Regions from separate parts of the Homo sapiens genome. Here region 1 is linked to region 2. The links come from fine-mapping of genetic effects on gene expression. A gene starts in region 2. The other region holds a variant in brackets. All regions are shown on one strand. Distances are between the middles of the regions.

What was found.
Region 1: its variant is fine-mapped to the expression of SLC38A1 in whole blood (INTERVAL, PIP 0.96).

The regions. Positions count from the first base shown.
Region 1 is chr12:46,181,229-46,186,605 of GRCh38, reverse strand. It overlaps SLC38A1 (solute carrier family 38 member 1), which reads left to right. Exons shown (of 17, transcript NM_030674.4): 17 at 1-3,543. Among named protein-coding and RNA genes, the nearest start is that of SLC38A1, 85 kb to the left of the region's middle. The variant C/A (reference allele first, on the strand shown) is at 2,468.
Region 2 is chr12:46,266,426-46,271,802 of GRCh38, reverse strand. It overlaps SLC38A1 (solute carrier family 38 member 1), which reads left to right and starts at 2,760. Exons shown (of 17, transcript NM_030674.4): 1 at 2,760-3,277. LOC105378248 (a long non-coding RNA gene) reads right to left here and starts at 2,732. Exons shown (of 2, transcript XR_001749101.1): 1 at 2,645-2,732. RefSeq lists silencers at 2,211-2,310, 2,391-2,570 and enhancers at 2,981-3,080, 3,131-3,180, 2,320-3,302, 3,301-3,360, 4,286-5,269.

The DNA.
Region 1 (5,377 bases), 85 kb after region 2:
AATAGACCCTACCATAATTCGTCAAATATCACTGATTAGTTACATCCTTTGTGTGAGATTAGCTGTAAAGTATACTGCTCTTATTCTTATTCAGAATAGTTAATTGGTAGCCAAAAATACATGTATCACAGATGTTAGGTCGAATTTAAACAGCACAGTCAAGTGCTATGGAAGTTTTTCTGCTAAATTAGTAGATTAAAGAATACTATACCCTAGGCATGGGGAGCAGCACGTTTTCCTTTGGTAGGTAGGATCTCTATACTAGTGAACAGTGCCAGTTCCACACTTTGGACTTAGAACTGTTCTCTAGTTATTGTAACACAGAATACTGTCAATCCCTAATTTACTTAATGTTACTTATTGGAAGTGGGGCTGATGAAATACGCACAGGAGGGAAATCTACTGTGTTTAGGCACAGGCAGCCCCAGTGTATAAGGAGATCATATTCCAAAAGGTTGTCAGTTGGTTGTTTGCAACCTGGAATGTATTTTCCTTTAGAGACCAGGTTATCCATGGTGGTTAGGCCCCTAGAGCAGCTGGAAAAGATGATCAAACCAATAGGTTAGCTGACATCGAATAATGTAATAGGTTTGCTAAAGAATCTAACCATCAAATATAATATTGTTTCCAGGGAGGGTGTTTGTTCAGAGTTGCCTGTTAGTAGAATCTGGACTGTCCATCCCAGCCACATCCCACCTACTGGACAGTAGGGGTAGAGATGCCACCAGACTACAGGTGACCAGATTGGCCTGAAACATGGTGTCCAGTAAAAACGGGGAGGAATAAGTCCATGACTGCTGGAGAGCTTGGTGGTAGGAGGAGGGTGAAGGAGGGTGAGGGGGCCTCTCATGGGTCAGAAACCTCCAGGGACATCCCTCAGCTGGTAACTCTGCTGTTGTCCGGAGGGTTCAGGCTTGGTGTGCCTTCTTCTGTTTGTCTGACTTTTGGCTCCTATGGTTCATCTCCTGCCCTGCCCACCACAGAAAAGGATGCTGCTGCATAGCTTCTCCAATGTACCAGTCATTGAGGCCAGCGCGCAGCACTTTTAATGTTTTTAGTGCTAGTAACTGTGTTTTAACTCTCCAGGAATAAGCTGGGAGGTTAGAAAACAAGAAAAAAGGGGGAAAAAAAAACCTCTCCACCCACTTTCCTTTTTTACAGTTACAGACCCTGTTGAGAAAAAGAAGCACCCAGATGGGTGATGGTGATAGGGCTTGTGGTGGACACAGGGTTGTGGTAAGATTCCTCAGTGCTTCGGCGAGCACCTAAGACTATTACCCTGGAACTGACTGCTTTCTAGAGCTTGATTCATGCCTCTAAGCCAGTGGTTCTCAAAGTGTGGCCCCTAGACCAGTAGCATCAGCATCATCGGGGACCTCATTAGAATGCAGATTCTCAGCCCCCTCCCAGACATGGTGAAGTCAGAAGCTCTCAGGGAGGGACTCAGCAAATGATTCTAAAGCGCATCAAGTTTGAGAACCACCCTAAGCCAATGAGTCTCCCTTTTACTTCCCATTAGTCCTCCCTCACCAGATGATTCCTAGGACTCATGGTGCAACATACAGGAGCCAGGCTTTAGGGAGGGGAGGAAAGGAGCCTGGCGGCAGGGGTCTCTGCAATGGCAAGAAAGTGAGTGAATCCAGCGCTGCCACCTGGTTATCCCCTTCTCGTTGAAAATAGCAGCGCAGGTGCAAATTCCTAAACACAGGCTGCCTGCACTCGGTGTTACCTCGGGCTGAGGCATGATAATATTTTATTTTTTAAAGCTGTGAGGAAATGAAAGTGAGGCTTTGGTTGGGGCGAGGCAGTTGTGAAAGAAATTAAAATAAAAGACCCTTTGTAAATGCAGACTTAGAAGAAATACTGAATTTGTGTCAGAAGTTCTCCAGTGTTTGTGTTAATCGTGTGGTGATAATCCTGTCCTCCTTTTAAAGCGAATTCTCTACTGAAAGGTCTGCTCTGCTTAAGGAGCTACAAACTGCTCTCAAAAGAATGAAATACTGAGTTCCAATTCAGTGAGGCACAGTGTTGGACTATGGCACATTTAGTTGGAGTCGGGGGGAGGTCAGGAATATGATCAGATAATGGATTTTATACCTTAGAGCAAAATCTATTAGTCTCTCTCAGTTTATCAATTTAAATGGCTTTAGGCTTATAGGGGGTGTAAACTTTAAGAATATAATTCTCCCATTCAAGTTTACAGCAAACATCTAGCCACCTTCAAAACAAAGAATATACAGACCATCATTTAGCAATACTAATACATGATTTTCCTTGGGGATGGCAGGTTTGAGAATCCTTTAGCAACAGGACATACTTCCCCTAAATTACAGTGAATTATTTATAACGAGATAAAGCTTTCAGGTACAAGCTGAAGGTGGGGTGTCTAACAACTAAAAACTATCACTAAATCTCAAAGAGAAAGTTCTTGCAAAATATGTAAAGTTCACAAGGTGCAGACATTTTC[C/A]TTCTTTAGGCTTTTATCTAAGGAAGGGCTATGAAACTGGGCCCATCTGTATACAGGCTCAAATTTACGTTTTTAAAGGAAGAATCTATGCAGCTGAGGCTTATTGCAGGAAATACTTCATTTGTATGTAAATATTATTGTAAATAAATAGGAGGCTGTATATTTTTGAAGTTGTTGATCTGCACTGAAATAGAAGTCTCTAGGATCTGCATATAAACAATAAATGTTTCCTAGAAATTAGTGGTTTTGTTTGGGAATTAGAAAAATTTACATTCTCTCCCAGGTAACATAGTTCTCTCAATGTAAACTTGGAACCTGAAACCCTACTTAATTTAGAGAAAGAAATGTCTGAGAAATAGTTCCCTTGATTTCTTATGCTGGCATTAAGATCAATTATTTAACAGATAGTCCTCTGAGATACAAGTAAGGAATATTTAGACACAAATCCTTGTCCTATAGAAACAGATATACCCAAATGACAAATTGTTTCTTCATAATGATCTTCCATTTTTAACACTGATACCACTACACAGTACATATGAAAACAGAAGCTGGGGAGAAGAATGTTTTTTTCACAATTGAATTGCTGCATTTCTCAAACTTTGGGATCTATGAAAGCGGGGAGAGGGAACCTGAATATTAATTATGAGCACAAATTTGAAGGAAAGAAAACAAAGAACCATTATCTAATCAAGCTTTGAAAGTCCTGCATGTTTGCCTTTTATTTTAGTGTTGACGCCAACATAGACTGTCTAAGGTATTTTTTTCCCCAAACACTTGAATCTTGGTCGTTGGTATGTAATCCACTCTCTAGAGTCCAGTGTACTTTAGACTTCATCTGAGTCCAATACATGTACCACACTACTGTTTTATTAATGTAAAAACCTTGTAAATGAATTTCAGATGGGTGATTTAAGTGAGTCACAAGTCACAAAACTTTGCTATTCATAGTTAATCAAATAGAACTGGGTTTTTTTTTTCAGAGTGTGGTGTAAATAAAGAAATATAAGAAGTTCTGTTCTATAACTGCTCTGTTAACATAGTTTTTAAACATTAAAAAATGTGAACTAAAAGTATTTAAAAATGTTGTGTTTGTTCTTTTGCAATGCAATACTAAAATGGGGCAGTTGTGTACTATATACACTATTCAGGATTGCTGGAGAAGGGTTATACATATTTGTCAGTGTTCTAGATCATAGAAGGTTATATATTTAAGCACCCTAACGTAAATATTTTTAAAAATACTTCTGATAGAAATCTATCTGGTCTGAAACATATACCACATTTCTCCATTCTTCATAATCAGAGTAGATTCACCATAATATTTTCTTTTTTAAGTCAAGTTTACCTTTATAAGTATTAATTTCTGCCCTGTGTTGTAGGAAGGAGTTGAGTCTTCCTCTACCCACATTGCTGCCACCTATAAAAGAAGAAATTCTATCAACACTTCATTTCTCAGTAACTATTGGGTCAAAGCTAGTGCAGCCTTGTCTTTTTATCCATCACCAACTCCTCTCCAGCATCTTAGAAAGGCTTTACCAGACCAGCAAGATGGCCAAAGTCTGATATCCAAGTTCTTCTTGTGGACAGGGCTAGCACAGGAATAGCCTGGGTCTTTTACGGTGTGGCTGGGAATGAAGACCCCCTTGATGAACTCTTCTGGCCTACCCAGGTGACAGCAGTGCATTCTGTAGGGCCTCGGTGGCACACACGCAAAACTCAAAGTAGAAACCTGGGGTACGGGAGTCCAAGTCATGTTCTCCAATATAACTTCGTTAGGAATAAAGCTGATATTTTTATCCTTACATGCTTCCTATGCCTACTTCTTAATTGATCAAAACCCCAAGGGCAAAGGGTGTGAGTGAGTAATTAGCACTTTTAAACTCAAGCAGTGGTAAAAGTTAAAAGACTATTGAGAATCTGAGCAGATTTTGTTCCAAATTGAAAGGGCCAGTCCTGCAGTGCCTTTGATAGTTCTGGCTTCTTCCTTCTACTCTCCCTCCATGAGTATTTGCTAATACTGTTCCATTCCGTCCTTTTTTACACAGAATTGTCAGGGAAGAGCTATTCTCTGCCTTTCCCATGGAATTAACTATGGGCTTGTATTAGGGCTCTCCAGAGGGACAGAATTAATAGGATATATGTATATATGAAAGAGAGTTTATTAGGGAGAGTTGGCTCACATGATCACAAGGCGAAGTCTCACAATAGGCCGTCTGCAAACTGGGGAAGAAAGAAGCCAGTAGTGGCTCAGTCCGAGTCCAAAAGCCTCAAAAGTAGGTAAGCTGACAGTGCAGCCTTCAGTCTGTGGCCAAAGGCCAGAGAGCCCCCAACAAACCCCTGGTGTAAGTCCCAGAGTCCAAAAGCCAAAGAACCTAGAGTCTGATGTCCAAAGGCAGGAGGAATAGAAGGAAGCACCCAGCATGGGAGAAAGATGAACACCAGAAGACTCAGCAAGCCAGCTTAGCCCGTCTTCTTCCACCTGCTTTGTTCTAGCCATGCTGGCAGCTTATTGGATGGTGCCCACCCCCATTGAGGATGGGTCTTCCTCTCCCAGTCCACTGACTCAAATGTCAATCTCCTCTGGCAACCCCCTTGCAGATGCACCCAGAAACAATACTTTACCAGCTATCTAGGCATCCTTCAGTCCAATCAAGTTGACACCTAATATTAACCATCACGGGGCTTAATGATAACTTTGCAACTCAGATGTCCTGTTTTCTTACTTTCTAGATTTATAATTGTGTTCTACCTAGTTTGGAAAGGGTGGATGAGGCCCAAATAACTAGGCCAATTTTTGAATATCAATTTTTAAAAATCTTTTATTAGTTTACATGTTAGGCTAATCCAAGTTGGTAGAATAATCTGCTCATTGGGAGAGTCAGTACACCACCAAAATAACCTGACAAA
Region 2 (5,377 bases):
TTTCTCAGTTCCATAGGGCAGTCTGCAGTCAAACCTGGTAATGTGTCCTGAATACCTTAATAACATTGGAAATCTGTTCAAATGGGAAAGGTCCACAAATAACATTAGATACTATCGACAAGTCTCTTGGACCTCACAACCCTATTACTGAGAAAACTAACTCCCTGGACTCTACTGAAATAGGGCAGTGGTTCCTATTCAGAGACAGAGTGGCCCGAGACCCCTTCCACCCACTAACCCTCCAAAGATGGTTATTCCAGAATCAGGGAACGTTTTAGATCCAGCCACAGAAAACTGGCTTACCAGTCAGCTCTGGATGCAAGATTTGGATGTGCCACTTAGGGCTGTGTGGACTTGGGATAAATTCCCTAACCTTTGAGTCAGGGATTAGGATAGGCTGCCCTATCAGGAATGTCATGAGAATTAAACGAGAGACCATCTGTGAAGTGTTTAACCTGCTGTTTGTCTCTCAGTAAGCACACAGTGAATAGAGGAATCATCTAGACATCCCTGGCCTCAATTTGAGAAAACAGCAGCCTCCATGTTGATGTTTACTCTGGTTCTAGGTTGTCAACTAAAATCCAGAGAAGGGGTGAAGATCCTTCTAACTCTAGGCCCAAGAATGTCTGATTGCAAATGGTTGTAGCACCACTGTGAAGACTGAGCACGGATTTTGAATTCAGACCTGAAAGGGAATCGCTTCCCCTTCACTAATTACTGTCTTAGGTGAACATGGCCAATTCAACTTTGTACTTGTTTTCTTAAAGAGGATAATACCCAACTGAGGGATTGAAAGCTTTAAATGAGATATTTACATGTAAAGTCCTTAGCACAATAGCTGCCATATCATAGGAGCTCAGTTCATAACTGTTGATTCCAATTCAAAAAGTGCTAAATAACTGCAGTCGTTTTGATATACAGAAACTAGCAAGTAAGTTAAAATTGGAACCAAAAGACAAGCTTGGTTCAGATAATCTCCAAACAGCGATGAATACACATTCTGCCTTTAATAAGGTAAATATTCCAACAGGCCTATTAAGCTATGGCTCACAGTTCATCTACTTTACCTATTCAGATTTCTTACCTTATTGATAAGAATTATTTGTGCCAGGCAAGGTGCACACTACTTAAAATCATTAATTTCACAATAAATTAGCTTCCTCTAGTAAGGTAGAAAGAACCAACTTTTTGATGACCTATAGAATATTGCTATGTTGTGTGTACTCTTCTCCCCTTTTTCACAAATTTAGAAAACAGGATTAGGACAAAAGTAAAGCAGATGAGGGAAGCAGTAAGTGTCAGAGGAAGAAATTGAATGCAGGTCTGTCTGAGCTAGGCTGCCCATGTGTTTGCCCTTTTGGTTTGCTCTGAACTTTCTGTTTTTCAGTATTTCTCAAGAGCATGCCTTCTAAATAGGATTCTCAGGAAGCCACTGTTGAACTAATAAAGGCCATTTACTGCCATTCGAAGGGAATAAGAAGTTTAGTCCGTGATGAGTTTCAAATTTGGTTATCATCTTGCTTTTCCAGTGGTGATGAAAAAGCAAAATTCACCCAAATACAATGACTACTGTCTACTTGAAACGCTCCAGGTAGTTAATTTTTGAATTATGATTCACCTTCCCTTTCCTGTTTTGATGAACCATGAACAGGAGACTGAACCTTCCCTATCAATAAAAAGCTCGCGTTTCCACCCTGCAAATTCGCGCTATGACAGTCTAATTGGCTGAGGCGCAGGTGGGATTTCCTGTCGCCATTTTAAGACACAACTCCTCTGCAAGCAAGTGCCCAGCCAGTGAAAGGGGGCTGTGTCTGAAACAAAGAGTAAGCGGGAAAAAAGGGAACCAGGCCCAGTTGCCCCTGCTCCCCTCCATGCCGCTCCCTCGTCCCCCGGACTTGGAGCGCCCCAGCTCCGTTAACCTGGACGCACCAGGTCCTTCGGTCGGGACCACGTGGGGTCTCCAGGCCCTCCAAGAGCTGGCCCCCGGCTCTTTGCGCCTAGGCCGGTGCTTTCTCGGTGCTCAGCAAATCCTTCTGGTTCACCTCACACCCAGTCCCCAAAGCAGAGCTCCACAGGGCAGATCTCAGGAAGGGCTGACCAGGTCTGCGGGTGCTGGATCCGGAAGAGGGGAGGTGCCTCCCGCTTCAGGTTAGGGACAAAGGGTTTTTAAAGGTGCCCGAGCTCCCCGCCGCCCCTGCCACTTCGGTCCCCTTCCCGCCAACCCGGGCCATCTGCAGGCTGTGCCCAGGGCCAGCCCTCCGCTCCAACGCTGCCCGTAGTCCCAGGCGCTGCCCGCGGCTCTCCGGGCTGCGCTCGGACCTGCCACTCCCGCGGCCATCCTCATGCTGCGCCCTTCCCACAATGCAACTCCCTCGCTCCTTCGGCCCCGGCGGGGCTCTGGCGTACCCAAAATGCAGGCCCCAGCGGAACGCACAGCCCTCCTGTCCTCCGCCGGTGCCCCTTTAGCCGCCCCACCCCCATCCCTAAGGGCTCTCATTCTCCAGCTGCAGCCGCAGCTGGGTTCCGAACACGCCGCCGGGCCCCGGGAGGGAGAGGGGCAGGTGCCAGGGCGGCGCGCAGCCTCTGCTCCCGGTGCCAGCTTCAGTGCGCCGGGCACACGCGCGCCCCGCAACCCCTCCCTCACCCTTTCCCCGTTGCTCAATCTCCGCCAGCCGCGGTCGCTGCATCGTCAGAGAGCTGCAAGAGGGAGGCAGCAAGGTGCGGCCGCCAGCAGTGACACCATGTGACCGGCACGGCTCACTGACACGCAGCTTTGGTTAAAGAGCGGGCGCACAGGAGGGGAGGAGACCGCGCGCGGGACGGGGAGGAATGGCCTGTCCGCGTTAAACCATCACAAGCCATGGTTGCGGAAGGGCCACGCGTCCCCCAGTAGGAGAATGACTCCGATTCGTGACCCTCAGCGCCGGTGCATGTCGATGTAAGTGCGAGGCCGGCGAGCAGAGTGTGAGTGGGGGTTGGTGGTGAGGGGAGATTCTGATGCAATCGGCCCGGAAAGGAGGAGAGCCAGGCGAGCGCGGACTGGGGCGGCCACGCCACTCCGCCAGAAGGTCGCCAGGAGCCTCCGCCCTTCACCTTCCTCCGAAATCCGCCAGGCCACGCCAAGCTCCCTGCCCAACCCTTACTGACGGGGGCCACATTTTCCCGGCCTCCGCAGCCAGACCTTGACACAAAGGACATCAAACTGCCGAGGGTAAAAACCCCGGAAGGGCGGACACCTCCACATCGCCTTTTGCCACCTTTCCCTTTATTTCCGGAGGTAAGGTGATTATCCGTTCCCGGGGAGGGCTGGGCGAGCGGCAAGGGGAGATTTAGATGTCGGAGGAGGAGGTAACGTAGAAATCATCTCTGCGGGCGTGAAAGCAGAGAGAGCTCGGCTGTGCCCGATGCTTTCGGATGTTGCTTTTAGGAGAGGAAAAGTCCAGGTCTCCTGTGCTTCCCGAACGCACGCGGCAGCGGGAGGAAGCGCCAGGGCCCCCGAGTTCACCTTTGCGTGGGCTGTGGCTTACTTTTTGGTTTGTTTTCCTGTGACTTTGGTGTGTTTTCCTGTGGCTGTGGCAGAGTGTGGTACCAGATCTGGTTCCATTTTTACGAGAGCCAGGAACCACGCACGTCTGGAGGGAGAGCGCAGCTGACCCGAGGGCGCGACCGTGTTCTGGGAGTGTTTGAATCCCCGGCCTTTGGTGAAAATTTCCTGTGTCCGCAAGGCCCAGAGGAGATCGTGTGATGTCCGGGGGGTGCTGCGTGCGGCCGGCTGGGTAGCGGCCGCGGACCACCACTAAACCGGGGCATGTTTGCCGTCCTTCCTGGTGCTCTGCCCCTCTGTAACGCGGGGAAGTAGGAGGGCGCGGGGAGAAATTACTAAAGGATGCTTGCAGTGACTCACTGTCCTTTCCTGCCCTGAAGAGGATTTTCTAAAATGCAGAGGGTGGCAGGGGACAGAGGTAGTGTTTTTTCGAGAGCCGGGATGTGCTGGAGCCAGCGAACAAAAGGCCACCTCTTGCGCGGTCTTGGGCGCAGACTGCTCTCGCTTCCAGTCCCACCTCCTCCCCAACCCCCGGCACCTAGTTCGCGTCCCTAAACGTTGCCGCAGAGGCCTTTAAACGCGTGGGTCGGTGCCGGGAGGAGAGCGCATCTTCGCCCTTGTGCGAGCCCCTTGCCCCCTAAATTATCCACCTCCTGGCGCATGGGGCTCCCCAGCACCCACTGGGACCCAGTAGGTTACCCGGCTGCCTGGGCACCGTTTGCCTGCCAAATCGCCCGCCTGAGGTTTGTGCTGAACTGTAGTTAGAGAAGGCACAAGTGCATATGGCAGCAAAAGGAATTTCGCGGTACCCGCGTCACGCCGCTCCCAGTGCCTTTCACAGGCTGCCTTGGGCTGGGGAAGGTGGTGCTACAATTCAGAGTCCTTTGTCTTGCTCTGCGGCGCGGACCCGGGGTTTGTACAAACCCTCGTTCTCTGTTAGAAACCTAACTGCCGCCAGGATCACGTACTTTCTCGGACGAATCCGCGGTGATGTGTGTAGCAAAAGTGAAAAAAGACGCCTCTGCTAGAAAACGGTATTTATTTGCGTTTGGAAGGGGTTTTGACCTCTCTGCAGTGGGTTTTTACATTTTTCAATATAAGGGGGAGGAGGAAAATAAATTTATGGTTTGCAGAATGCAGGGCCCAGCGAGGGTGTAATTTGTCACCTTGATAAAAGAAACTGTGCAGCAACTCGTGCTTTTTCTGACGTCAGAAGGACAACGGAAATAAAACCTGAGCTCGGTGCATGGCTGGCCTCGTTGTCAAATGTCTCATGCCAATTTGGTACTCCCGAAATCTTGCAAAACAGCCAATTCCGGGGTACTGACCTGGTGTGGACCCCCTGGATTTTGGTTCGACCCCAGCCTCAAAATGGCCTTTCTCTTGAGAGTCACTCGATTTCTCAGTATGTCGCTGTAAGCAATTGGAAACTGGAATAGTTTGGTTTGAGGTCTTAATCTTGAGGTTTATTCGCTTTTTAAAAAAATGTGGCCAATAAACATTTTCTACAGAGGGCTTACTGTGCGACTGGCAGCAACTAACAAGATTTGTTTCACCTTCTATGAAGCTTCCGTTCTCAGGGGGAAATAGACTATATAAATGTAGGCATATACATTTCAGGTATTCTTAGTGCAATGAAGAAATAAAACAGGATCATGTGATGGGGGAGGATGCTTGAAATAGAGTGACTCACCGGGAGGGGCGGTGTGAGGGTATAACATTTGTCCTCAGACCCGAATGATGAAAAGGGATCAGCTATTTCCATAATTGAGGGAAGAAGGCCAGCGGAAGGAACAGGAAGAAGGAACAGCAAGTACTTATTGCACTCTTCTT